Regions from separate parts of the Homo sapiens genome. Here all the other regions are reported to be linked to region 2. The links are microRNA targets in miRTarBase. Many come from high-throughput screens and were not tested one by one. Region 2 holds a microRNA gene; each other region holds the end of a gene's coding sequence.
What was found. The annotated mature microRNA hsa-miR-342-3p reads UCUCACACAGAAAUCGCACCCGU and lies in region 2 at 2,486-2,508, opposite strand. An mRNA with a match to its seed (bases 2 to 7 or 8) in the 3' UTR can be bound and repressed. Matches are read on the target gene's strand: a 7mer-m8 pairs with bases 2 to 8, a 7mer-A1 pairs with bases 2 to 7 and ends in A, and an 8mer does both.

Region 1 (5,099 bases), not on the chromosome of region 2:
AGAAGTTGGACACTGCCTGCTCAAGAAGTTCATTGTTATAAGACTCAGGTATTCATAAAAGGCCTAGGGCTAAGCTAGTAGCACAGAAAAGCCGTTAAGGGGATCACAGCAGAATACACAGGGCAGAAGAGAAGAGTTGGCAGCAGGGGAACGGAGTCTCAAGGTGACCAATAGAGAGCACAACATTCTCAAATAGTCCTTGAGGTGCTGATTCCTGGGAGTAGTCAGCAGAGGGCCAGAACATCTCCCAGGGGTCCTTTTGGGGAAGGATGACTTCACTTAGTTTTAGGGGTGAAGAGCCACTGAGCTGGGTGCACAGAAGGCCATGGCTCAGAAGGGAAAGACTGATCTGAGAAATCAAAAGGAAGTGGGGGCCAGGAGCAGTGGCTCACGCCTGTAATCCCATCACTGGGAGGCCGAGGAGGGTGGATCACTTGAGGTCAGGAGTTCAAGGCCAGCCTGGCCAACGTGGTGAAACCCCGTCTCTACTAAAAAATATACAAATTAGCTGGGCATGGTGGTGTGCACCTGTAATCCCAGCTACTTGGGAGGCTGAGGCAGGAGGATCGCTTGAAACCGGGAGTGGAGGTTGCACGGAGCCAAGATCACACCATTGCACTCAAGCCTGGGTGACAGAGCAAGACTCTGTCTCAAAAAAAAAAAAAAGGAAGTGGGAAGCAGAAGGTAATATCCAGAACACTAGTAACAAGGAATGTAAAGCCCCCAGAAGACCTTCCCCATGGGATGAGGACTCAATTTCAGAGCAATGCCAGGTTTGAATAGACTCACACAGAGGGCCCTTCTCTGCTGACAACTTTGGGAGTGATGGTCCTACCCAGGCCACTTAAGTTTGGCTAAGTGTTTCAACCAATCTGCAAAACTGTACCCCAGCACTTTGCTTCCTGCTCCTGAATTGAGAAATTTCATATTTAGTTGTGAATCACAAGCATATAGAGACTCCACACACTAATTCCTAGGGAAGAGAGCTCCAAGGATCACAAGCATATAGAGACTCCACACACTAATTCCTAGGGAAGAGAGCTCCAAGGACCAGACAGAATTATCCTTAAATCAGGAGATGATGAGATAGATGCCTAAAAAGCATAACTCAAAGGGGTGTGGACTTCATAGATATCCAATCTAAAGAAAATGATATGACCCAACATGGTTCACTTCCTTTCTTAAATAGCTACTTTGTCCCTGTTCAATTTTTATCTACAAATATATTAAGAAAAGGAAATCAAGCATCACTATAAATGGTAAACCTCAATCATTAAGTAGTACTGTGTTCCCCAGGCTGAGAACTTGGCTAAACCAGATGAATGGGGCTTGAGAGGCCCTTGAAAACATTCCATGGAAGACAATGGTAAGGGAAAACGCCTAGGCCTGATTTTCTGCCCTCCCTCTTATCACCAGCCACCCTGCCCCCCTCAGGCCTGGATAATGGGTGGAAGACACCACCAAGTGTTTATGATCAAAGAAACTATAAAACATGGTTCTTAGGCTCTGAGATACTTCCTGCTTCCCTCACAAACATGCTTATGTTTGGTGTGCATGCACATTTGCCTATCAGCACATATAAAGAGACAGTGGAAAAGTCAGAAGTGTTTTCAGGTTATTTTCTTTAAAAAAAAAAAAAAAAAAAAAAAAAAAAAAAAAAAGCAAAAACCATGGACCTGGTAGCACTCCAATTTCCCATGATCCCACCCCCAACCCCTCTACACAATAGAAACTGCACATATAAAAGAAAGCCTTCTCTAGTCAGGTCAGCCTCCCAGAATGATGGCCTCTGCTGAGTAGAAGCAAGACCCAGTCCCTGGAACACTGGATAGACAGTAGGCATGTGCTGCCTCTCAGAATACCCATTTACTTTCTGTCAACTTCAAAAGCCAAGCCCATCCCTCCAGGGAATGGTTTCAGTTCCCGGCTGGGAAGGTTTCCGGATTCTTGGAGGCTAGTACAGTGATTTCCTAGAAGTGAACACAGAAATACTACCCCCTTCTCCCGACAACACACACACACAGACATACACATGCACACATGCATCTCTGGGATCCCAGTGCTCCAGGGCCTGAGAGGCATCAGTGTAACCCAGGTTCTGAGTGTGTCCCATAAATTGGAGATTCAGTCTAGCTCACTCCTACTGCACCAGCCTCAACCTGAGAGCTCACTCCAACTGAGTCCCTTCACCATCCATTCTTGGGATGCATCTGAAAGAGAAAGCACTGGTTGGAACTGCTATTTTTAAATTATTAAAATAATTTGCATAGCTAAATTGTAGATCTAAGGCTTCCATGAGTAGAAGAGTTAAGTGTCTGGCAGGGTGCTTATGAAAACACAAAGCTTCTTAAGTTCCACTTTTGGTGTTATTGGACAGCAGACAAACACACATATACACATGCACCCCATCCATCATCTCCTTGTCTCTTCTCTGAGGACAATACCCCAGAGTCTGCTAAGGCCCTCCAAAGATGGAAATGGGCTGGTCAGAAGAGCTGTAGGAGCTACTACTGGGATGACCTGACTAAGCTGCCTTCTGGGCTGGGAAGAGGCAGGTACACCACCTGCCCAGTAAGGAGGGAGCCATGGGTAAGTGGTAAAGCTCTAAAGCCAAAGTTTGTTCATCATAAAGAACTGTCTGGCAAAGTGTTGGGGTGGGGGATACAGAGGGGGCGGGGACACCAGTAGGAAGACAGCCAGTGTTTATGCTTAAGGACTAGACGACCCTCCCCTGGCAATGGCAATAAGGGGAGACCCAGAATGACTGGTGTGTTCTTTTAAGATAAAACCCAGACTTAGGGCTCCTACAGAGAAAGGGCTCCTCCATGTTCCTTCAAAGATGGAGGCAGCAGACACCAGGCCTACATGGACCACCTGAAGATATTTTCGAACATGAAATCAACAGTCCCTCAACCCAGCAACCGCCTATCCACAGCTTCACTATTCAGCATAGAGAGCCAACATCTAACATCATCCCAGGAGGACACAGCTCCAAATCTGGGGTCTCTTACTTCCCAATTGCAAACTCCATGATCACAACTTTCGATTTCTGTGGAATGAGTCCCACCCTCCACTAACTATCCAGTCTCAGGATTCCCTGATCTTCCTGAAAAGCCATCTCTCAAAAATATAGTTGTTTAATCCAAACCTTGGTCAAACCTAACTCTTCCCCTGGTCAATTTACCATCCATCCAGGATTGTTTTTCACCAGTGGCTATAGGGTCTGGGATATCTTAAAACTTCCCTTTCTATCACCTACCCTCCTTACCCCTAACCTCCCCCCACCCCCAAATAAACAAGACACATGAAAAGTCCAAGTAATAAATAATTGCCCATAAGAAATAAATTAACATGGAGCTCTCTAAAGGGGAAGGAAAGGAACAGAAAAGACTACCAGGATAGGCAGCTGGGGGCTCAGTTCTACCCTGGTGAAAAATGTATTTTCCAGCCACAACTCTGCGACCTTTCATTCACGTACTGCAGTGCTTCTCCCTCCCAGCCTCTGCACACAGACAACCTTCCAAGCTGGAAAGGGAGAGCTGCTCAGAGATAGCCACCGGGGTTAAGAGACATAGATTGGTAATGCCCATTTTCTCTCATGAATTTCCCCAAATTCTCACACAAATGTGGCTCTGAATACCAGGGACTTGAGTTAGCTGGGCCTTCTCTTCACCCATCCCGAAGGAAACTTGTTATTTCCATGGCTCTTCTGGGCTCACCCTGATGTTCACACTAGGTGCCATGAACCACCAAACTGACTTCCATTTAAAGAAAGATAAATTCATTTTTCAGTTTCCCTCTTAGTTCTTCCCTCCCTCCCCTCCCACCTTCACCCCTGCTCTGTTCCATACATACACATACAAAATAAACATACACACACACACTCACAAACACACATACCTGGTCAGCTTCCTTCCCACCCCCTAAAAAGACCCCACTTCACATGGGATCACAGTCTGCTCCCCCTACCCACCCTCCTTCTCTCACTCATTCTCCCTTCCTTCACTCCCCTCCCCAGGCCAAGCTAAGTCACCTAGTAAGGCAGCTCTCTTGGGAAAGAATGTTCCCAAAGACAGAAATGGGATGTGCGCTTCTACACTCAGATGGGCGAGCAAGCAAGCAGACAGCATAAGCAAGGCAGGAAGGAAAAGAGGCTGCACTGCCCCTCCATCCCTGTTTTGGGTCCCTGATTTCCCGCTATTGCTGCTGTGTTGGACTTTTTTTTTTTTTTTTTTTTTTTTGCCTCTTTTGTTAAACAGCAACAGAGCTCTGCCACTTTGGCCAACCACCCTCCTTTGTCCTCTTCCTTTTCCCTCCTGCCAAGTGTCCTATTCTCAAAAGGTCTAAATCACTGCCTTTCAGCTTGGTGGGCAACCTGCTGGGGGCCCCAAGTGAGGTGGGGAGGGGCTCCCTAGCTATTTCCCAGTGACCTCTATCACATCATCGTCTTTATCCTCATCATCATTGGAGCTGAACCCAACCTCGGCAACCTCATGAGAGTCAAATGGAGGCACCTGGGACCGTAGGAGGCCACCAGCTGGGTAGCCTGCATGTGGGGACATGTAGCCTGGATAGATAGACATGCCCCGCGAAAGGTTGCTGGGCAAGACAGGGGAAGGAAAAGGCGCAAACATCCTCGGCTCGGACAGGAGTGGCTGTGAGAATGGGAGTGAATAGCTGGGTAGTATCCCTGGCACAGAAGGGTTGAGCATGAAGGAGGGGTTGCTGGCAGTGACTGAGGTAGCCGTGGAAGAGGAACTGACGGGGCCTGCTGGCACCAGAGGGTCAGTAGTCACTGGAAACACCAGGCGGGCATCTGCCAGCAAATTGGACAGCTGGTAGTAGGAGGGGGTACTGCCCATAAACAGGGAGTTCTCCCCAGCCTGGGAGGTGAAGGGGGTGGTGAGGTTATGGTTTAAGGAGACGGGTGGCATGGCAAACCCGCCAGAGACTGGATACCCGTGTTCATACGGCTGCACGGGGGCTGGCAGATGACCCTTCCTGGACCGCCGGCGGGATGACTCCTGGGCAGCAGGTGGTGTGGCCAACTTTCGCTTGTGGCCCCTTAAGTCCAGCACTGGGTGCCTGTCACCACAGGG
Region 2 (5,103 bases):
GTATCTCAAGTTCAGCAGTTGGCTTTCTGAGTCTCCGGAGTTATCTACCAAAATATTTGAGCTGGCTTTTATCCTATATGAGCTGAAGCTGGCAGGAGGCTACTTGTAAAACTCCTTCCTTAGGAAAGAAATGATACACGCTACGCGAGGAAAAAAGAAAACAGCTGTGAATGAATTCTTCCCTCACTTTCGAAGATGTGGGTATGTGGCTAGAAAGATGGGGCAGGTTAAGTGTTTATAATAATCAACCTCTGACCAAGCCGGGTTATAGTTTAGAAAGCTGGGGGGCTGCCAGCTGAGCAGGGTCTTTTGAGAGGCAGTCTGGTCCACTGGGCAGAGACCTGGACTGGAAATCAGAACATCTGGGCTCTGGGCCTTAAGCTCTGCATTCACCAGAGTGGCCTGGGGCAAGTTTCTTAGCACTGTGAGCCTTTGTTTCTTCCTTCTTAAAATGGAGAAAGTAATTCCTGCTATCTCCCTGCAATCTCAGGGAGCCAAGATCCAGGCACAAGAGCATCCAGGAAGGGGTTTGTTCCTTTCTGTAAGGAGTATACGGCTTAGCTCTGGGTGGTGGCACACCAGAATGAAATGACTCTGGCTACGACTGAGGGGTGAGATCCCAGTATCTAGGGATTGGGCACTCCAGGAACAACTTGCATTCACTGTGCCATATGCTTACAAATCACAGTCCCATCTATTTTATCATTTGAGCCTCATGACAACTCTGTGAGGTGGTTGTCACACCCATTTTAAAGACAAGGAAACTGGCCGGGCACGGTGGCTCACACCTGTAATCCCAGCACTTTGGGAGGCCGAGGTGGGTGGATCACCAGAGGTCAGGAGTTCAAGACCAGCCTGGCCAACATGGTGAAACCCTGTCTCTACTAAAAATACAAAAATTAGCCGGGCGTGGTGGCGCATGCCTGTAGTCCCAGCTACTTGGGAGGCTGAGGCAGGAGAATCGCTTGAACCTGGGAGGCAGAGGTTGCAGTGAGCTGAGTTTGCACCACTGCACTCCGGCCTGGGCAACAAGAGCTAGACTCTATCACAAAAAAAAAAAAAAAAAAAAAAAAATGAGGACACTAAGGCTTAGAATGGTGAAATGGCTTGCTCAAGGTTTCACAGCTGCTCCATGTGACAGGGTGGAGCGGGTGCCTGGAGCTAGGGCATGGTACCCTGTCACCTGCCCCCACAATCTGTGCCACTTCTGTCAACCACTGTGCTGACCATGGCAGGCACACCTCAGCTGGCTGCTTCCTGAGCCCTACCAGGAGGCGTCAGGAAGGTGCTGGTGAGGCAAGGCTGGGGAATGAACCACCACCTATCTCAAACCCTGACTGGGCACATGGCGCCTGGGCTGTATCTACAGAAGACTAAAACTCCAAAGGAATCTCGCCATTAGCGTTAGGGAGATAATCCTGGGACTGGTGGAAGGAGGAGACCTCTCTTCTCTAGGATGTAAACTGCAATAAGCCAGCAGCTCTTTTGAGGAGGACAATGGCAGCAGCAGGATGCAGGTGGGATGCTCTGAAATTAGGGGCACCCGTGAGGCATGCACAGTACTACCAATGTGCCGAGGGAGACCCCCAGGGTCAGACAGAGCCTCTTCTCAGATCTTGATTTGAACTTCCAAACCACCAAGATCTGCTGGTGCCGCCGTCCTCCTCCTCATCAGATCCCCCCATTCACCCCCAGCCCTGCAGGGCCCAGGTTCAAGCCCCGCTTCCCTCAGAAAGTGTTCTCTGACCATCAGGATCCAAGAAGCCTGGCTTCCCTCTGTGTCCCAACGTGATGGCTGCTGGCACCACACAGGAGTTGATATTGTTAGTTACCTTTTTTTTTTTTTCCTGAGACAGCGTCTTGCTCTGTTGCCCAGGCTGAAGTGCAGTGGTGTAACCATGGCTCACTGCAGCCTCAGACTCCAGGGCTCAAGCAATTCTGCTACCCCAGCCTCCTGAGTAGCTGGGACCACAGGCACACGCCATCACACTTAGCTAATTTTTAATGCTTTTGTAGAGACAAGGGTCTTGCTATGTTGACCAGGCAGGTCTCGAACTCTCACACTGAAGTGATCCCCTGACCTCCTAAAGTGCTGGGATTACAGGCATGAGCCACTGTGCACGGCTGATATTGTTAGTTACCTTTGCAAATAATTTTTTTAAAAAGAGTAACTTCAAACTGTTATAGTAATTTAGAGGTGACAAAGAATGTTTACAAACATCATCTCATGGTACCCTCACAACAACCCTGTGAGGTGAGTCTGATTCAGCCATTTCACAGATGGCGAAACTGAGTCTTAGGTCAGTGACATGCCCAAGGGCACACTCCTGGCACAGCTGGTACTGGAACCAGATCCGAGTTCACGTCCGAAGTTCCTTCCACAGTATGCACACCTCGGGGCCACAGCAGCTGAAGGCCCTTCCATAGGCTGTGGCTGGAGAAGGCGTGTTCCTCTGTTTGGGGTGGTGATAAGTAGGCCAAGGTGACGGGTGCGATTTCTGTGTGAGACAATTCCATTAACCATGTCCCTCAATCACAGATAGCACCCCTCACCTTGAGCCCAGTTTCACAGGTTGGCCAGCAAGCGGTCTTGGTTCAGGAACTCCATCTTAGTCTGCAGAGAAGGATGCAATGGCAGGAAGTGCCAGGCTATGAGAGGCACACAATATGACATGGGCGCAAGCTGGGAGCTTGTTCAGTCACCAGACACCTCTGATGTGTCAGTCTCTCTTCAGGGCTCCCGAGACACAGAAACAGACACCTGCCCTCGAGGAGCTCACAGTCTAGACAAACAAACCCAGGGTCCAAACAAATGGGACACCAACAGTGTGCGAGGACTGGGAAGGGGTGCCTGAGGTCTTCTGGGGCACTGGGAAGGCTTCACAACAGCAGGGCAAAGGATGAGCAGAAGGTGACCAGGAGTATGGAGAGAACATGCATGAGGGCAGGGGCGGGGCCCCTTTAGACGCAGCCCAGGGAGGACAGACTGAAGAAGGACAAGAGAAGGTGGATGGGTTACAACCCCATTACAACACTTCAGGGGAGAGAGTGTCAGGGGAGAGACGGTGAGAATATGCAGTGCAGGTGGTGAAAATGGGAGCCAGTGAGTCAGAGGGACCAGGGGCTCAGGCCAATGCACAGCCTTCACTGCTGGACATGGTCCCACAGGACCTCGATGCTGAGCTGGGGCCTGGGCTGAGTCAGGAGACAGGGCTCCAGGCACGGCAGCCTCTGGGTCCTGGTGTGTTCCTGCAGCCAGGGATGGATATACTGAGAGCTTATAAGGCAGACGATGTGTGGGTTTTTGGGGTCCAGAGACAAAGAGGCCACTTTCTGAATTTCCAACCTGACTAGATTCATGCAGTGGGAATAGCAGGACAGGCCAAGTGGCAGCTGACTGTTAGGACAGAGGCAAAAATAAAGCCCCGTGGGAGTGCAGGAGGGAGTGCAAAGTCACAGGGAGCGGGGCGGCTGGGAAAGGCTCCATCTGTGGAGCCACATTCTGACAGGACGAGTGAGATTTTAGAAGTGTGGGGAAAAGTGAGAGGGGAAGAAGGGCCAGGGGCACAGGAGAGCCTGAGTAAGAGTGTGACTGACGGTGCGACTTGGGTAGCTGTTGGCATGGAGGCGTACAAAGGCCCTGCCTGATACAACATCTGGAGCCCTGGGGTGAGAACAGGGGTGGGTCAGCAAAGAGACATATCCGGCTTTCAGAAAGTGGCCGCCAGAGGGCAGCTGGGAGCAGGCAGGAGGCCAGGGGCTTGCCGTCCTGTTCCCCTCAGGCAGGGCCATGCTGGGCCTGCTTTCTCTCAGGTGGCACAAGGTGTCAAATGGCCTCGGCAGCCAGGGAGATGAAGACAGTCCAGTACTTCCTTCTCTTTAGGGGAGAAAGAGGTAATTTCCAATGGAAAGAGGTTTACAAGAAGCAAAATTCAGCCCCACCTCCAAGAGCTATGAGGTTTAACAACCTTCCACTCCCCTCCAAAGAGCACATGGAGCTGGGCCTGACTCTTCCCGGGAAGGTCTGCCTGTAAGTCCCTTTCCGGGGCTCTTTCTCAACACTGTGCTGAAGGTGCAGCCCCTGGGCCACTGGGCATCAATGAAGGACATAAGAGGTTGAAAAACTGGGAAAACATTTATTATCCAGCACCAGGAGCTTCATATTTTGAAATATACCAATGATGTTATTACACGCAAACCAAGTAGGAAAAGGACATACATTATGCTCCAAGAGCCAAAGAGAACAAGCACTTCATCCTGTGTTTTAATTCGCCCGGATTCCCACTAAGCTATGGGGTTTTCCTTTTTCTTTTCTTCAGAGTCCCACTGTATAAAGTCGATGAAGAACTACTCTGGTTGCATCAGGGCGAGGACCCTGGTATACCTTGGTGGACCCCTGGAACTCCTCAAAATATCCAGTTTGAAATCCACTGCATTCAACCCCCAAACTGCAAATAAACTTGCCTTTGACCACACATGCTTCTGTCCCACCCCCACCCAATCCAGCAGCAGGGGCACGTCTGACAAGATTTCATTAGTGAGAACCAAATGCGAAGAAACAGTCAAAATCCAGTTACTCAACCCTCTCCTCACCAGCACTGCTTTCCATGCACCTCGGCCCTCTTCCTAAAGCCTGGTCCTTTTCTGGTCCTTGGCCTGGAAAAAGTGATCTTTCATGAGGGAATGCTAGTGGAGGAACGTTGGGCGTGGCCATGGTTCTGCTCAGACTTGTCCTGTGGCCTGCACACATCCTCCCCCTCACTGGGTCTTGGTTTTGTCATCTGTAAATGTAAACCCAGTCTCATGACACCCAAGCCTCCTTCCCTGGCTCCCACTCACTGGCCCTACCCCGGCCTAGACTATCTGCCTTCTACACCAGCAGAGGCTTTGAGGGGGATTTTCTTTAAAATTCACTCCCACTATGTGGTCGAGTGCCATCAGCTTGGGGTCTTGCCTCAAGTGCCACCAGGGCCCTGCTCTCCTGGAGTAATGGGAGACGATGACACGATGACTCTAGTAAGTTCTGAGAGGACCTACAGTGGTTTAATGGAAAACTGCTGGATGTGGGGACAAAAAGAGGAGCAGCATGGGGCACGGCCCTGA
Region 3 (5,103 bases), not on the chromosome of region 2:
TTTTTTTTCTCAAAAATTGCAGCCTGTGATTCTAACTAATCCAAGTTCATAGGAGGTTAAATCATTCTTCATTGTCTTTCACTCTTTAATAATGGGTAGTTCCTCTTTGAACCATGAACTTAAAAACACTTCTAAAAATTAAGAAACTGGCAATGAGTTTATTCCTTAACAAACACTGTGTTGGCATGAGGTGGGGAGGTAAATCACTCGCTACTTGATTTATCCATGTTGAGATCACACTAAGACAGTGTCCTGTTTCTCACACAGGTTACCTGCTACTTGGCCTTATTGCCATGTTGGTAGTTCTGGAAACCTTCTGTGAACTCCATGAGCTGAAAAAATTCAGAAAAATGTTCTATGTGAAGAAGGACAAGGACGAGGATCAGGTGCACATCATAGAGCATGACCAACTGTCCTTCTCCTCGATCACAGACCAGGCAGCTGGCATGAAAGAGGACCAGAAGCAAAATGAGCCTTTTGTGGCCACCCAGTCATCTGCCTGCGTGGATGGCCCTGCAAACCATTGAGCGTAGGATTTGTTGCATTATGCTAGAGCACCAGGGTCAGGGTGCAAGGAAGAGGCTTAAGTATGTTCATTTTTATCAGAATGCAAAAGCGAAAATTATGTCACTTTAAGAAATAGCTACTGTTTGCAATGTCTTATTAAAAAACAACAAAAAAAGACAAATGGAACAAAGAAGCTGTGACCCCAGCAGGATGTCTAATATGTGAGGAAATGAGATGTCCACCTAAAATTCATATGTGACAAAATTATCTCGACCTTACATAGGAGGAGAATACTTGAAGCAGTATGCTGCTGTGGTTAGAAGCAGATTTTATACTTTTAACTGGAAACTTTGGGGTTTGCATTTAGATCATTTAGCTGATGGCTAAATAGCAAAATTTATATTTAGAAGCAAAAAAAAAAAGCATAGAGATGTGTTTTATAAATAGGTTTATGTGTACTGGTTTGCATGTACCCACCCAAAATGATTATTTTTGTAGAATCTAAGTTAAACTTACTATTTATAATGCATAGGTAACCATTAACTATGTACATATAAAGTATAAATATGTTTATATTCTGTACATATGGTTTAGGTCACCAGATCCTAGTGTAGTTCTGAAACTAAGACTATAGATATTTTGTTTCTTTTGATTTCTCTTTATACTAAAGAATCCAGAGTTGCTACAATAAAATAAGGGGAATAATAAACTTGAGAGTGAATAACCATAGTATTCTGCTGCAATAAATGTTTCTACCCTCTTGCGATAGAATGGTGTCAGATGTCTAACATGTTTATAAACATTTTTTTGAATTGAACAGGTTATGAAAAGGATTTATTAAAAGGTTAAGATACTTTGTTTTGAAAGTACATTGTGATTTGCAGCCACCTAGCACTAAAGCATAGAACTTAAACACGAATCCCTAAATGAACAGATTATGTTACATTAATCTGAGAATTTTAAATTTAGAAGCTAAAATAAATAAAAATCACAGCTGGTTGTAATCTTATGCTTTCATATATCAGAAGTGTGCCTCTATGTAGAATATATATACATATGTGTGTGTATATACATATATATATGTATGTATATATATACATATGTATATATATATATATGTGTGTATATATATATATATATATACGTATATATATATATATAGTCCTTCATAGAAAACATAAAGGTCACATTTAGATGACGTACACAGGATACTATTATATTAAGGATTTTAGAAAAGAAAATGAGAAAGCCCCTGTGTGATAATGAATGTCCACTGACCCCCGCAATGGAGCCTTACCTCCCATGGGTGGCTGCCCAGGAGTTGGTGGTTGAGGGGCTGGTAAAAATCAGTGCAAAATCAGCGCCCTCTGATGAGCCAGCCAAGCACTTTGATCGCGGGCCAGTCTCCTGACAGTGGGTCACTCGCTCAGTAACCTTCTACCTTCTGTACCATGTGCTGCCATGAGTAAATTATTACCAACTGCAGGGCAAAGGGAAAGCATCCCCTTACCCTTCGGAAGATTTGCTGAAAAATCAACTCACAAAAAGGCAGATTAATGAGAAAAGGCATACACATTTATTAACTACCATGCACACAGAAAGAATTACAGAGTGATTGTCCAATATCTCAATAGGGGTTCACATGCTTAAATATCTTACTGATTAGAGGACAGGGAGATGGAAAAATATAGGTGATTTTAGAGGGATAGTATATGATTTTTAGAGGAATCCAAGTGTGCTGCCCCGTAAGCATATTTCCTCCCTGCTGACCATGTCCCTGCAATAGAAGACTGCTGTCATGAGGCCAGATCATTGGTTAAGGGTAGAATAGAGAATCCTTGGAGAATAGAGGCATGCATCCTGCCATAACTGGATCTGCAACATTTCCGATGGTCACAAGCCTTGGTGTGGAGCAGAGTCCTGAGATGCTCATCAATATAAATCACAGAAGCTGGATTACACTTGGAGAGTGTTATTCTATTTTATGCAATGCAGGAAAAAATAATGGCTAGTTTGCTACAGCTGCTTGGCTCTAACATGAGAGGGAAGTTCAAAGTCCAGAAAATGAGGAAGTACGTGAAGAAAAACTTCTGAATCAGATGTGATTAATAAGTAATAGAGTGTAGTACTTAATTTTAGGAACTCGTTTGAATCCGCAGAGAACACATTAAACCTTAATGCCCTTCAGATTGTTGTTAATGTGAAGGGCAAAGTAGAAAAGTAGGAGCAAGTTTTGCCTCGGCCCCCACCCTAGCAGGCAGGAAAGTAAGGGAGGATGTCTTCCCCAGGGTTTCTTTTTGTCTTTGGCCGATGATGCTGCCCTTTGGTCCCCAGGGAGAAGCGAGCTTGGTCACCCAGGAGGAGCTCTGGGTCAGCCTCTCAGAGAACAGAAATTCGGCTTGCTGCAGGCATGACAAGGAGGTGGAAGATGAACAGTGTAGCTAAGCCAGAACTGACCTTGGGAACCCTTTAGTTGGAGGCGAGAGAGTGGGAAGTTGGAGGTAAAAGTGACTACTAGAGAATTCTGGGTGATGAGTACAAGCTGAACTCACTTGCTTAGCTTGAGCCTTCAAGATTGAGTTCCTAAGATGCCTGCGGAATGCCCTCAGGGTAGAACAGCAGCAGAAAGCCTTATCATTCCAGGACATGGTCCTGTGCGTGAACTTAAATGTGACACGTGTCTGGTAGGGATGTTGATTTCAAAGTAGCAGATACACTCCACGTGAGGAGAGAACACAGAGTATCTCAGAGTGGGAGTTCCTAAGCTCTCAGAAATCCAAGGGAAGAGAGACCAAGGGGTGGGAGTAGTCTCTAAATGAATCATGTAAAAGATTCCCAGGACAGATAAAGTTTAGCCCAGATCACTCCATTTATGACACTGGTTTCTTTCTATAGTAGTCATGCCACCAAGATATTTTGAAAGTATTTGTTCAAAAGTTGAAGAAGACAAGTGGGAGAAAAAAGAAACATTTTCTGAAGACAGAAATTTGGTCTGACTTCAAAAAAAATCGAGTAATGTTTAGATTACTGACATGGGGTCACTTTTTTTTTTACCTGAGAAAAAAATCACACTCATACTTTCTCCAAACCAGCTTTATGGGCCTTTTGGAAAATGAATGAGGAGATATTTACAAATCTGGAGACCTCAAGATAACGGAAATAGGCAATGCAAAACCTTCTTAACTCTTTAAAGTACACTGACCTCTTACTAAAAACAGCTATTTGTTTCAAAGAAGAAAAGTTTTAAATTGGCAGAAGCACATGTTGGAGAATTAGAACAGTATTATCTGTCTCTTATTCAGAATTCAGTGAGAGCAGAGCCTCCTGATTGTCTGGCATAATACATTTATTTTGGTATTTGTTGTTGTTAAAGCCTCCATGCTGGGAAGAGCTGTGATAAATACTGATATCCTCAATTTAGGAAGGCAGTCCCTTTAGGATGTAGTTTCAGCAATGTATATATGGCAAATTTAGAAACAAAAGTTTCTTAGCAACTTATAGTTGAAATTGAAATGAGACAGTATACCATTTACTTTATTTGACTATGCCAAGTAACTTTTTAAATCTGTCTCTGTAGCATGTTTGAGATTTTCCTATTGTGACTTTTTTTTTTATTTTGCAAGGGTCTTACATTGTGGAAATTTGGTGCATCAAAGCCTTTTGTGTGAGGCAAGATGTAAAATTGCTGAAGTCAATTTTCCTAACATCTCTCTTATCTAATATGTACTGTCAGGCAAACTCAGCTTTTTGGAGTGCAGTAAAGGACCCAGAAGTAAATAAAAATGCTTTTTAAAGTATTTTTCATGCCCTGGTAGGAAAGCACATTTAAAAAGAAGTAAGCCCTCTCTTTGCTTCACTCATGGCATACACATACTTACTTTGCACACAGTTCTAACAAAATTATTACTCTGTTTTTCCAACCCACAGAAAATAAAGGAGAGAGTTGTATTAAAAGGCAAATTTAAGACAAATTAATTCAACAGAGTTTATTTGAAATTAAAGGATTCATGAACTGGACAGCATTCAAAGCCTGAAGAGGTTCAGAGAATTTCACTGTAGCAGCAAGAGGTGTGGGGTTTTATAGGCGGAACATGCAAGCAAAGCAAAGCAATTGCTTGATTGGCTACAGCTACGTATTTGTCTTAATTGAATATGATCTACTGGAAAATCCCTGGGCTTGTTGGTGGTTTCTGACTGGTAAAGGTTTTTTGTTTGTTTGTTTAACTGTTTATGTTGAATTGGGCTTGGCTGGATTTGTTCACCTAGGAAACAAAGGGCTCTGAGGCCATCTCAGCCTAATGGCCTCTCAATTATTTTAACAATTGCTACCCAAATTTTGTGTCAACATAAATGACGTTACAATTTGTGGTGACACAATTAAAGAATTTAAAAGTCTCCATATGCAACTTGGCAATAATTACTGTGCAATCACTTAGGCGGCCTTAAAATAGTAAGCAGTCTCTCAGTTTCTGTAAAAGCATCCACAGCACTTGCACCATTCCCTTAGCATCCTGTGGCACTCAGCATCTGCGTAGAACAGTCTGACCACTCTATTTTATACTGAGAAGGAGAAATGGTCACACCCTCTAGAGACAT
Region 4 (5,103 bases), not on the chromosome of region 2:
AACCTGAGAGGCAGAGGTTGCAGTGAGCCAAGATTGTGCCACTACACTCCAGCCTGGGTGACAGAGTGAGAACCTGTCTCAAAAAAATTAAAAAAATTAAAAAAATAAAAGATAAAAGGAAAGCACATACACACACACACACACACACACACACACACACACACACGATAAGGACCAGTGAGGTCTGACAGGAGGTGGGCAGTGTCTAGGTCCCAGGCCTGGAAGCTGCGTGCATCACTTCTGGCCACATCCCAGCGGGCAGAACCCAGTCCCACGGCAATACCAGCTGCAAGGGAGGCTGGGCAGCATCCGGCTTGTGAGCTCAGGAGGAAAACCAACAGGTGTATGAACAGCTAGTCAGTCAGTCACTTCCTCACTTTCTCATTGCTGGTATTGTTGCTGTGGTTTGACTGGCCACATGTCTCCAGTGCTGTCTGGCTTATTACCTCCATGTTTTGTAGGACAAGACCCTGTACCACCCTGTCAGTGGCAGCTGCATGGACTGCAGTGAAAGTGACCATAGGATCTTCATGAACACCTGCAACCCATCCTCTCTCACCCAGCAGTGGCTGTTTGAACACACCAACTCAACAGTCTTGGAAAAATTCAATAGGAACTGAGCCCTCATGTCCCCTTGGCAGGCCCCCCAGGGTCTGGCACTCACTGCAGACTTCCTCTTTCAAGGGAGGCAGGGCCCCTGTGGGCACTAGGTGTAAAAGGTGCTGGCCAAATGGTTCAGGGTGAAGAGGGCTCTTGATTCAGGGGCTGGGGTCTGCCTGGTCCTTGAGCCCCTGAGTTGTGGGGGTAGGGTGAAGAGCATATCCCACAAGAGGCCCCACAGGGAGCAGAGACTGCTTTAATCCCTGCTGACATCACGGAAAAGCAACAGAGCCTTTTCAACTTTGTCACTATGTCCCCTTGAACATTATGTGGGAGAACACCAAGGTAGCCTAGGCCACCCAAAAGTGAGTCCTGCGAGGTTGCCCAGCCCTCAGATGGCTCTCCTACATGATGGTGCTTTAGAAACAAAGGTAAAATTTGCCTGTTTGGGGCAGCTTTTAGTATCGATGCCACTCATCTGCAGCAGAAGAGAAAGAAGTCCTCTTGGGGCTTTTTAGTTTCTGCCGTCCTGGGGGGAACATTGCAGTTACTGCACAGCTTCTGTTCTCTGTCACAACCCCAGGTGATTTGGTCCGGTCAAAGGCCATACTTGGGGCCCTAAGAGTGTTCAGTATTGAATGCTGATCAGCTGCCAGGTGAGGAGTCAGAAGAGGGAGCCCCCCTAGACATTTCTTTGCAGCTATGGACATGCGGGATATCTCCCCCTGCTCTCTGGGTATTTGAAATGTCAATTTTAGCACTCTCCAGGCACAAGGACAGCCCAGCACCAGCTTTACAGGGCAGTGTTTCAGATGGCCCTGAGCCCACGGAAAAGGCCAGGTAGACCTCCAAACTAGAAATGCTGGCTGATTTGCCCTGATCCATGCTTCCATTTCCCTGTCTCTCTTCCCCAGGCAATTACTGGCCTCAAAAGAGGAACAGAGGTGCTGCGAGGTGCTCACCTCACAGAGTCTGGAGGCCTCCAGGATCAACTGTGGGCAAAGTGCCTGCCTCTGACCTCATCATGGTTCTAGTTCTCATACAGAACTCCAGAATTTTTAAAGAACTCTATAATTGGATTGCAAACTAGGATGCTACATAGGATTCTGGTATTCCACATCCAATATGGATTTCTAGAATGCTGTGATTAAAGGAGCCAGCCAGGTGTAATACAGTCAAGGCAGCCCCCAGCCTAGAGACAATCTGTGAAATCCAAAGTTGGTGGTGTTGGGAAAGCAGGGGGACATGTGTCCCTCAGCTCAGCAGAGGCTGTGGTACAACATGGTCCTTGGTGAAGACCTGCACCCCTGGAACCTCCCACCATCATCACAACTGTAGTCTCATTTGCAGTGGAGAAAAGAACCCGACGTCCCACAGCCAGATATACACCCAGCTCCATGCCAGCCCTTCATGTTTACCTTTTGCTTTGTTAATTACATGTCAGACTCCTAGAGGGCCTCCAGACTAATAGGAAGCATTTCTGTAACCAACCTGCCACCCACTGATTCAGAAATGGAAATCACATTCCACAATCTATGGCTTCCACCAGCTAGCCCAGGAAATACTTGAAATCAGCATTCCAATTAGTGTTGAGTCTCTTGATTGTGTCATTTACCAATTAAATAACTGAGACCTAAGTCTGGGAACAGAGCCACGAATCTGCCTTTGAGATGCTGGCAGATCTCAAGGCCATCAATTATTGGGGGAGGGAGGGACAAACACTCCCAATCATCCACCAGTCAGACTGAATGTGTAGCTGGCGAGGAATTACTTCCACTTCTGGCCCAGCACAAGCCCTGCTTTGGCCACCTGTCTGCAAGAGAGGCGGCCCCTGTGCTTGCAACGCTTACGTGTTGATCCCAGTGTCCTTTTCCAAATGAGTGCTGTAGCTTTAGAAGTGGCCCTCTATAGAAAGAAGTCAAAAGATGAGGCCCCTTCTAGAATCTAGGATAACAAGAGTGTTGACAGTTTGAGGAGTCGAATTGAGATTCATCATCAAAGAGCAATGCAGCGTCGTTAAAATAAAAACTGTGCCTTTTAAAAAGAAAAATGCAAATATAGAGCAAATCCCTAAACTTGAACCATTTCCTAGTGCCTTGCTAGACAAACATAAAGGGGCAGGGTTGTGGGGAGGGGAACGTTTTTGGTGGTGTGTGCAGTTCCTACTGGATGAGTGTGTGTTTCTTAATGTCTCATTTCAAGCAGGAGATGTTGGGTCTGGAGCAAGATCTGAGACTGAGATGTCCCCCAAGGGTGACAGGTCAGATTTATTTCAGTCAGTGCAAGTCACACTCCAAACTAAAGGCTGGGCAGTGCGTTTAGTCTGTGGCCTAGAAGACCTCATCAGCCCCCGAGAGGAGGCCTTGCATTACCTCACTGGGACCTGTTTGGGGGCCATCCCTGCGGTCCACCCTCTGAACCCCCAGCATGTTTGTCCTGTTTCTCACCATTGGGTTAAGGGGTGCCGAGCACTAGCTAGACTTCCACATAGTCCCACCCCAAGTGGGCGGCAGTGTTCCTGGCATGACCAGGATTCCTGTGAAAGCAGGAGCAGCAGCAAGCCGTCCCGGGCCTGCCTTTCCCATCCTTTGGTTCTCCTTTCCAGTCTGGGTTCACACCCTGAAAAGGGATGGGTGTGTCCTCTGAGCACTCTGGCATTTGTCATTGCTGAGCCCATATCAGTAGGTCCTGGGACTTGACAAAGTATGTGGGAGGGGAAGGAAGGACAGAACTTGACTGGCTCCATTTCATGGACCAACTGATCAATTGCCAGTACTAAGCCACTCATTGTTATGGCTTCCTTTTTGAAAACCACCTGTCTCAAGGATTCAGGTTTCTGCTCACATCCCCAGCTGATGCTCAATAAAACTCAGCCAGGAGCATATGGAGATGCTGACAGCCAGGTAATGGGTGAGACTGTGGGGTCCCTTTTCCTCTAAAGCCTTTACTCTGAGGATAAGGTCACAAAGTAGGGTGTGACTTGAAAGTATCGTGACCATGTGGCCCACCAGCAGCCTTTCCAAAGGGGAACTCCAGAGACATTTCATAATGCAAACAGCACTGTTGCTTTAAGAACAAGGCCTTTGGAGGTGGCTAAACTTGCACGCACGTGTGTGAAAAGCCATCCCATCTTCTGCCTCCAGTTGGAGCTTTCAGCTGTTAAAACAGTCAGAAACTATTGATTCTTCCCTTTAGGAAAAAATGCTCAGGCAGAACGGGGTACATCCACAGGAGGAATCGGACGAGAGGATGTGACATTCGGTCCAGGAGAGAAAGAGCAGTTTCTGTTAAAGATGTAACAAATGGATTTCCAAAGTCTACATGACATTCACTTTTCAAACTTCCCACCAGTTGAATTTCTTTTTTTCCTTAAGAAACAGGTGATGTCTTGGAAAACAGCTCCTTATGTCTCTCTGTGCATCTCCATTTTCCTAGTCTCTGGAGTCTCAAAAAGAGTGGCAAAGCACTTTACAGTAGTAACTGAGGAATCAGAGTCTCTGCTTCAGCGATATCTAGTTTGTACAGTTGGGTGATCTTTTGTAATTCCTAGGAGGTAATGCATTTTTAATGTTTTCTGAAGCTTTGTAAGTGTGAGAGAGGGACAAGAAGTGCAGTTCTGTTCTGGAATTCCTTATTGCTTTCAACGGACACTCTTTGTGAAAAATCCAAGTAATATTTTAGTTCAAACTTGATCTTGAGCCAAGGCCCACTGCCACCTCTGGGATGGGAGTCGGACCTACATACCAAGTGACAAGTTCACCTTAACATCTGCTTCCAGAATGGCTTTGATTCAGCCGTGCCAGGCAACAGAACAGGGTCAGACTCCTGCTCTGTTATTGGCTTGAAGACTAGGATCCCAAAGGGGTTGGAGGCAGGGAATATTTGAAAATTCAGACTGGAATTCCAGGCCAAAAGCTCAAGACCACCAGCCTCTCCTCCTGCCTGGAAAAATAAGCCTTTGTGAAAGACTGATTTACCATGTACAATTGTGATTGTGAACGTTGTTGAGTAAACCTCCAGACTTTCTCTAAAGTGGTCTCTGCCTTCTTCCTTCTCATGTGTCATTCTTCTTTTCATCATTCTTCACGTAGACCACCTACTTCGGACTCAGGCATTCTGCTGGGTACTAAAAACTCCCAACAGCCATCATTCTAGAGTGAAAGGCAGACCTAAAACAACTAAGATGATTTCAGATGCAAATAGGGCTATGAAGGGTATAAAGCAATGATATATTAGAGACTGGAGTGGGGGTCAACGTTAGCTAGAATGGTGAGAGCTGAAAGACATGAAGGAGGGTGAACCAAGATGATTTCCCGGAACAGAGTTCCAGGCAGAGGGAACAGCTAGTGCAAAGGCCCTGAGGTAAGTAGAAGTTTCTGTGTTGGAGGAGCAGAAGGAGGTTAGCTTGAAGAGTTACGTGGGGCAGCCCACAAAGGGTCACACCCAGGAGCGGAGGATCTCAGGAGGGCAGTGACAATATGAAATAAGCATAACTTTTTTTTT
Region 5 (5,103 bases), not on the chromosome of region 2:
TCAGATGTAAATGACACTGGCTAGAAGGTAATGTTCAAAACTTTTGCTTACTTTTCCAGGAAGATGTGGATGCTGGACAGATTATTTTGCAAGAAGCTGTTCCCGTGAAGAGGGGTGATACTGTCGCAACTCTTTCTGAAAGAGTAAAATTAGCAGAACATAAAATATTTCCTGCAGCCCTTCAGCTGGTGGCCAGTGGAACTGTACAGCTTGGAGAAAATGGCAAGATCTGTTGGGTTAAAGAGGAATGAAGCCTTTTAATTCAGAAATGGGGCCAGTTTAGAAAGAATTATTTGCTGTTTGCATGGTGGTTTTTTATCATGGACTTGGCCCAAAAGAAAAACTGCTAAAAGACAAAAAAGACCTCACCCTTACTTCATCTATTTTTTTAATAAATAGAGACTCACTAAAAACAAGACTAGTTAGTGCAGCATATCTGAGACATACAGTTTTCTTGGTCTTTTTTATGCTCTTTTTCTAACCGTCACCCCCTCTTTTTTTTTTTGGTATTGCCTGACAACATGATGAATCACCTCCATGTTTATAAGTTTTATGTTTTCAGCTGGGCACAGTGGCTCACGCCTGTAATCCCAGCACTTTGGGAGGCCGAGGCAGGCGGATCATGAGGTCAGGAGATCGAGACTATCCTGGCTAACACAGTGAAATCCCATCTCTACTAAAAATACAAAAAATAGTTAGCTGGGTGTGGTGGTACGCACCTGTAATCCCAGCTACTCGGGTGGCTGAGGCAGGAGAATCGCTTGAACCCAGGAAGTGGAGGTTGCAGTGAGCCAAGATCATGCCACTGCACTCCAGCCTGGGCAACAGAGCGAGACTTGTCTCAAAAAATAATAATGGGCTGGGTGCGGTGGCTCACACCTGTAATCCCAGTACTTTGGGAGGCTGAGGCGGGCAGATCACGAGGTCAGGAGATCGAGACCATCCTGGCTAACACGGTGAAACCCCGTCTCTACTAAAAATACAAAAAAAAAAAAAAAAAAAAATTATCCTGGGTGTGGTGGCGGGCGCCTGTGGTCCCAGCTACTTGGGAGGCTGAGGCAGGAGAATGGCGTGAACCCGGGAGGCAGAGCTTGCAGTGAGCTGAGATCATGCCACCGCACTCCAGCCCGGGCGACAGAGCGAGACTCCATCTCAATAAATAAATAAATAAATAAATAAATAAATAAATAAGTTATGGGTTTTCTGATCTTTGATCATATGCTTTTGAAGCCATGACTGCTGGATGTATCTGAGTTAAAATGAGGAAAAGAAACATGAGGACAAACCCAAGTGTATCACCTGGGTTCCGTTTATAATCTTGGTTATAGATTCCGGTGTGTAAAAGTTGCCCAGCCTCCTTCTGATCAGTGTCAAGTGACTATCTCTTCCCCAAGTCTAACAAGGCAGTATCTCTTCCTTATATTGTATAGCTGATTTGAGACTTTTCCGACCATCGTGATCATAATCTGGTGTGTTAAGATTTCTGGATAGCTCCCATTTCTGAAGGATAGTATCCTTTATGCTTTGAAGTATCATTAAACGTTCCTCTAATTATTGACAGTTTCTGTAATCCCCAGATTTTAGCTTCAGTAAAGTTTAATTATCCTGTGGTTTATAAAGATCCATACTTCTCTGCAAGTCACTAGAGGATTAGGGGGAGAGTTGGTGGCTTTTAGATTCAAGCATAAAACTTTAGGCACATTTCTCATCCACTGTGTCTCTCTATTCCCTTGTCAATTAAAGTAGGCAAATATCATTCATATAGTTGTTTTGATGAGACAGTCTCACTCAGTCACCCAGGCTGGGGTGCAGTGGCAAGATCTCAGCTCACTGCAACCTCTGCCTCCCGGGTTCAAGTGATTCTCCTGCCTCAGCCTCCTGAGTAGCTAGGATTACAGGCATGCACTACGACACCCGGCTCATTTTGTATTTGTGGTAGAGACGGGGTTTCACCATGCTGGCCAGGCTGGTTTCCAACTCCTGACTTCATTTGATCTGCCTGCTTTGGCCCTCATAGTGCTGGGATTACAGGCGTGAGCCACCGCACCCGGCCCTCCTTTGGCCTTTTTAAAACCAAAATTGTCTTTACCTCCCAAAGTGTTTTTCAGCAATTCTAATGCATACATTTGCCTCCTCCACTGTTTAAAAGAGACCATCTCTGACAGCCATTCTTTCACAAGCCATGTAAATTTTACATTTACCACAGTGTTAGATCATTTTCCTTTATCTGGAGCCAAATGTTAATTAACAGTTAAAAACTGATTCATAAGTGGAGACAATGCAAATGTTCATCAGCAAATGAACTGATAAATATATGGATAAATATATCCATACATTGAATACTATTCAATTATAAAAAGGAATGAAATACTAACACATGCTACAGTGTGGGTGAACCTTGAAGTATTATGCTAAGTGAAAGAATTCAGGGCCAGGTGCAGTGGCTCAGCTCTGTAATCCCAGCACTTTGGGAGGCCGAGGCAGGCGGATCACGAGGTCAAGAGATCAAGACCATCCTGGCCAACATGGTGGAACCCTGTCTCTAATAAAAATACAGAAATTAGCTGGGCGTGGTGGTGTGCACCTGTAGTCCTAGCTACTAGGGAGGTTGAGGCAGGAGAATTGCTTGAATCCGGGAGGCGGAGGTTGCAGTGAGCTAACGCCCCTGCACTCCAGCCTGCCAATAGAGCGAGACTCCGTCTCAAAAAAAAAAAAAAAAAAGAATTCAGTCATAAATGACCACATGCGGCCAGGCATGGTGGCTCACACCTGTAATTCCAGCACGGGGGGCCCAGGTAGGAGGATCAGTTGAGCCCAGGAGTTCAAGACCAGCCTGGACAACATAGTGAGACCCCCATCACTACAAATAAAACAAAAATTAGGCATGGTGGCACACACCTGTAGTCCCAGCTACTTGGGAGGCTGAGGTAGGAGGATTCCTTGAGCTCAGGAGGTCGAAGTTTCAGTGAGCTGTGATCGCACAACTGTACTCCAGCCTGAGTAAGACGTTTTCTCAACAACAACAACAACACCAAAAAAAAAGACTGGCTGGTCTCGGTGGCTCATGCCTGTAATCCTAGCACTTTGGGAGGCTGAGGCAGGCAGATAACCAGGTCATGAGATCGAGACCATCCTGGCCAACATGGTGAGACCCCATTTCTACTAAAAATAAAAATAAGCGGTTGGGTGCTGGTGGCTCACGCCTGTAATCCCAGCACTTTGGGAGGCCGAGGCGGGCGGATCACGTGGTCAGGAGATCGAGATTTCCTTATTAAATGTTTCATGGCAACATGGTGAAACCCCGTCTCTACTAAAAAAGTACAAAAAATTAGCCAGGCGTGGTGGCGGGCGCCTGTAGTCCCAGCTACTCGGGAGGCTGAGGCAGGAGAATGGCGTGAACCCGGGAGGCAGAGTTTGCAGTGAGCCAAGATCGCATCACTGCACTCCAGCCTGGGTGACAGAGCGAGACTCCGTCTCAAAAAAGAAAAAAGAAGAAAAAATAAAAATAAAAAATAAGCTGGGCGTGGTGGTGCGCGCCTGTAGTCCCAACTACTCAGGAGGCTGAGGCAGGAGAATTGCTTGAACCTAGGAGGCGGAGGTGGCAGTGAGCCAAGATCGTGCCACTGCACTCCAGCCTGGTGACAGAGTGAGACTCTGTCTCAAAAAAAAAAGACCACATATTATACAGTTCTATTTATATGAAATGTCCAGGCTGGGTGCAGTACCATACACCTGTAATCCCAGCACTTTGGGAGGCCGAGGAGGGAAGATTGCTTGAGTCCAGGAGTTCCAGACCAGCTTAGGCAACATAGCAAGAAACCATTTCTACAAAGAATAAAATATAAAAATTAGCCAGGTGTGGCTATGTGCGGTGGCTCAGGCCTATATTCCAGCACTTTGGGAGGATGAGGCAGGGGGGTCACTTGAGGTCAGGAGTTCGAGACCTGCCAGGCCAACATGGTGAAATGCCATCTCTACTAAAAATACAAAAATTAGCCGGGCATGGTGGCCCTTGCCCGTAATCCCAGCTACTCTGGAAGCTGAAGCAGGAGAACCACTTGAACCTGGAAGGTGGAGGTTGCATTGAGCTGGGATTACACCACTGCACTCCAGCCTGGGTGACGGAGTGAGACCTTGTCTCAAAAATAATAAGAAGTAGAAGAAAGAAAGGGCCGGGCGCGGTGGCTCACGCCTGTAATCCCAACACTTTGGGAGGCCGAGGTGGGTGGACCACTTGAGGTCAGGAGTTTGAGACCAGCCTGGCCAACATGCTGAAACCCCATCTCTACTAAAAATACAAAAATTAGCCAGGCATGGAGCATGTGCCTGTAGTCCCAGCTCCTCGGGAGGCTGAAGCCTGCAGGAGGACTGCTTGAGCCCTGGAGGCGGAGGTTGCAGTGAGCCGAGATCACGCCACTGCACTCCAGCCTGGGCGACAGAGGGGAACTTCGTCTCAAAAAAAAAAAAAAAAATTAGCCAGGTGTGGTGGCACACACATGTAGTCCCAGCTACTTGGGAGGCTGAGGTGGGAGGATCACTTGAGCCTAGGAGGTTGAGTGCAATCGAGCTGAGATCATGCCACTACACTCCAGCCTGGGCAACAAAGTGAGACCCTGTCTCTAAAACTAATAATAATAACTGAGGCCGAGCACGGTGGCTCACGCCTGTAATCTCAGCACTTTGGGAGGTCGAGGCAGGCGGATCACTTGAGGTCAGGAGTTCAAGACCTGCCTGGCCAAAATGGTGAAATCCCGTCTCTATTAAAAATACAAAAATTAGCTGGGCATGGTGGCAGGTGCCTCTAATCCCAGCTACTTGGGAGAGTGAAGCAGGAGAATCGTTGGAACCTGGGAGGTGGAGGTTGCAGTGAGACGAGATGGCACCATTGCACTTCAGCCTGAGTGGCAGAGCAAGACTCTGTCTCAAAAAAAAAAAAAAAAAAATCCTAATAATAATGAATAACATTTAATAAGGAAATGTCCAGAATAGGCAAATCCAGAAGACAGAAAATAGATTAGTTGTTGCCTAAGGTGGATAGAGGTATTTGGGGTGACAAAAAAAGGGTACAGGGGTTTTTGTTTGAGTGATGAAAATGTTCTAGAA

Region 1: the mRNA of RAD54L2 is a reported target of hsa-miR-342-3p. Seed matches in the 3' UTR shown: 8mer at 3,615-3,622 and 7mer-m8 at 785-791.
Region 3: the mRNA of KCNK1 is a reported target of hsa-miR-342-3p. The part of its 3' UTR that is shown has no 7-base or 8-base seed match.
Region 4: miRTarBase lists GALNT10 as a target of hsa-miR-342-3p. Seed matches in the 3' UTR shown: 8mer at 4,189-4,196.
Region 5: the mRNA of GART is a reported target of hsa-miR-342-3p. The part of its 3' UTR that is shown has no 7-base or 8-base seed match.

What each region holds. Positions count from the first base shown.
Region 1 is chr3:51,662,737-51,667,835 of GRCh38, reverse strand. RAD54L2 (RAD54 like 2) reads right to left here. Exons shown (of 23, transcript NM_015106.4): 23 at 1-5,099. The coding sequence ends at 4,416. Among named protein-coding and RNA genes, the nearest start is that of TEX264, 6.0 kb to the left of the region's middle. RefSeq lists an enhancer at 4,649-5,099.
Region 2 is chr14:100,107,120-100,112,222 of GRCh38, reverse strand. It overlaps MIR342 (microRNA 342), which reads right to left and starts at 2,568; the gene lies at 2,470-2,568. The region is part of intron 3 of EVL (Enah/Vasp-like); the gene reads right to left. MIR151B (microRNA 151b) reads left to right here and starts at 2,709; the gene lies at 2,709-2,804.
Region 3 is chr1:233,671,004-233,676,106 of GRCh38, forward strand. KCNK1 (potassium two pore domain channel subfamily K member 1) reads left to right here. Exons shown (of 3, transcript NM_002245.4): 3 at 268-1,511. The coding sequence ends at 527. Among named protein-coding and RNA genes, the nearest start is that of MIR4427, 49 kb to the left of the region's middle.
Region 4 is chr5:154,416,353-154,421,455 of GRCh38, forward strand. GALNT10 (polypeptide N-acetylgalactosaminyltransferase 10) reads left to right here. Exons shown (of 12, transcript NM_198321.4): 12 at 462-4,632. The coding sequence ends at 620. All of the region lies in intron 2 of SAP30L-AS1 (SAP30L and GALNT10 antisense RNA 1), which reads right to left. Among named protein-coding and RNA genes, the nearest start is that of SAP30L-AS1, 27 kb to the right of the region's middle.
Region 5 is chr21:33,499,272-33,504,374 of GRCh38, reverse strand. GART (phosphoribosylglycinamide formyltransferase, phosphoribosylglycinamide synthetase, phosphoribosylaminoimidazole synthetase) reads left to right here. Exons shown (of 22, transcript NM_000819.5): 22 at 60-442. The coding sequence ends at 251. Among named protein-coding and RNA genes, the nearest start is that of DNAJC28, 10 kb to the right of the region's middle.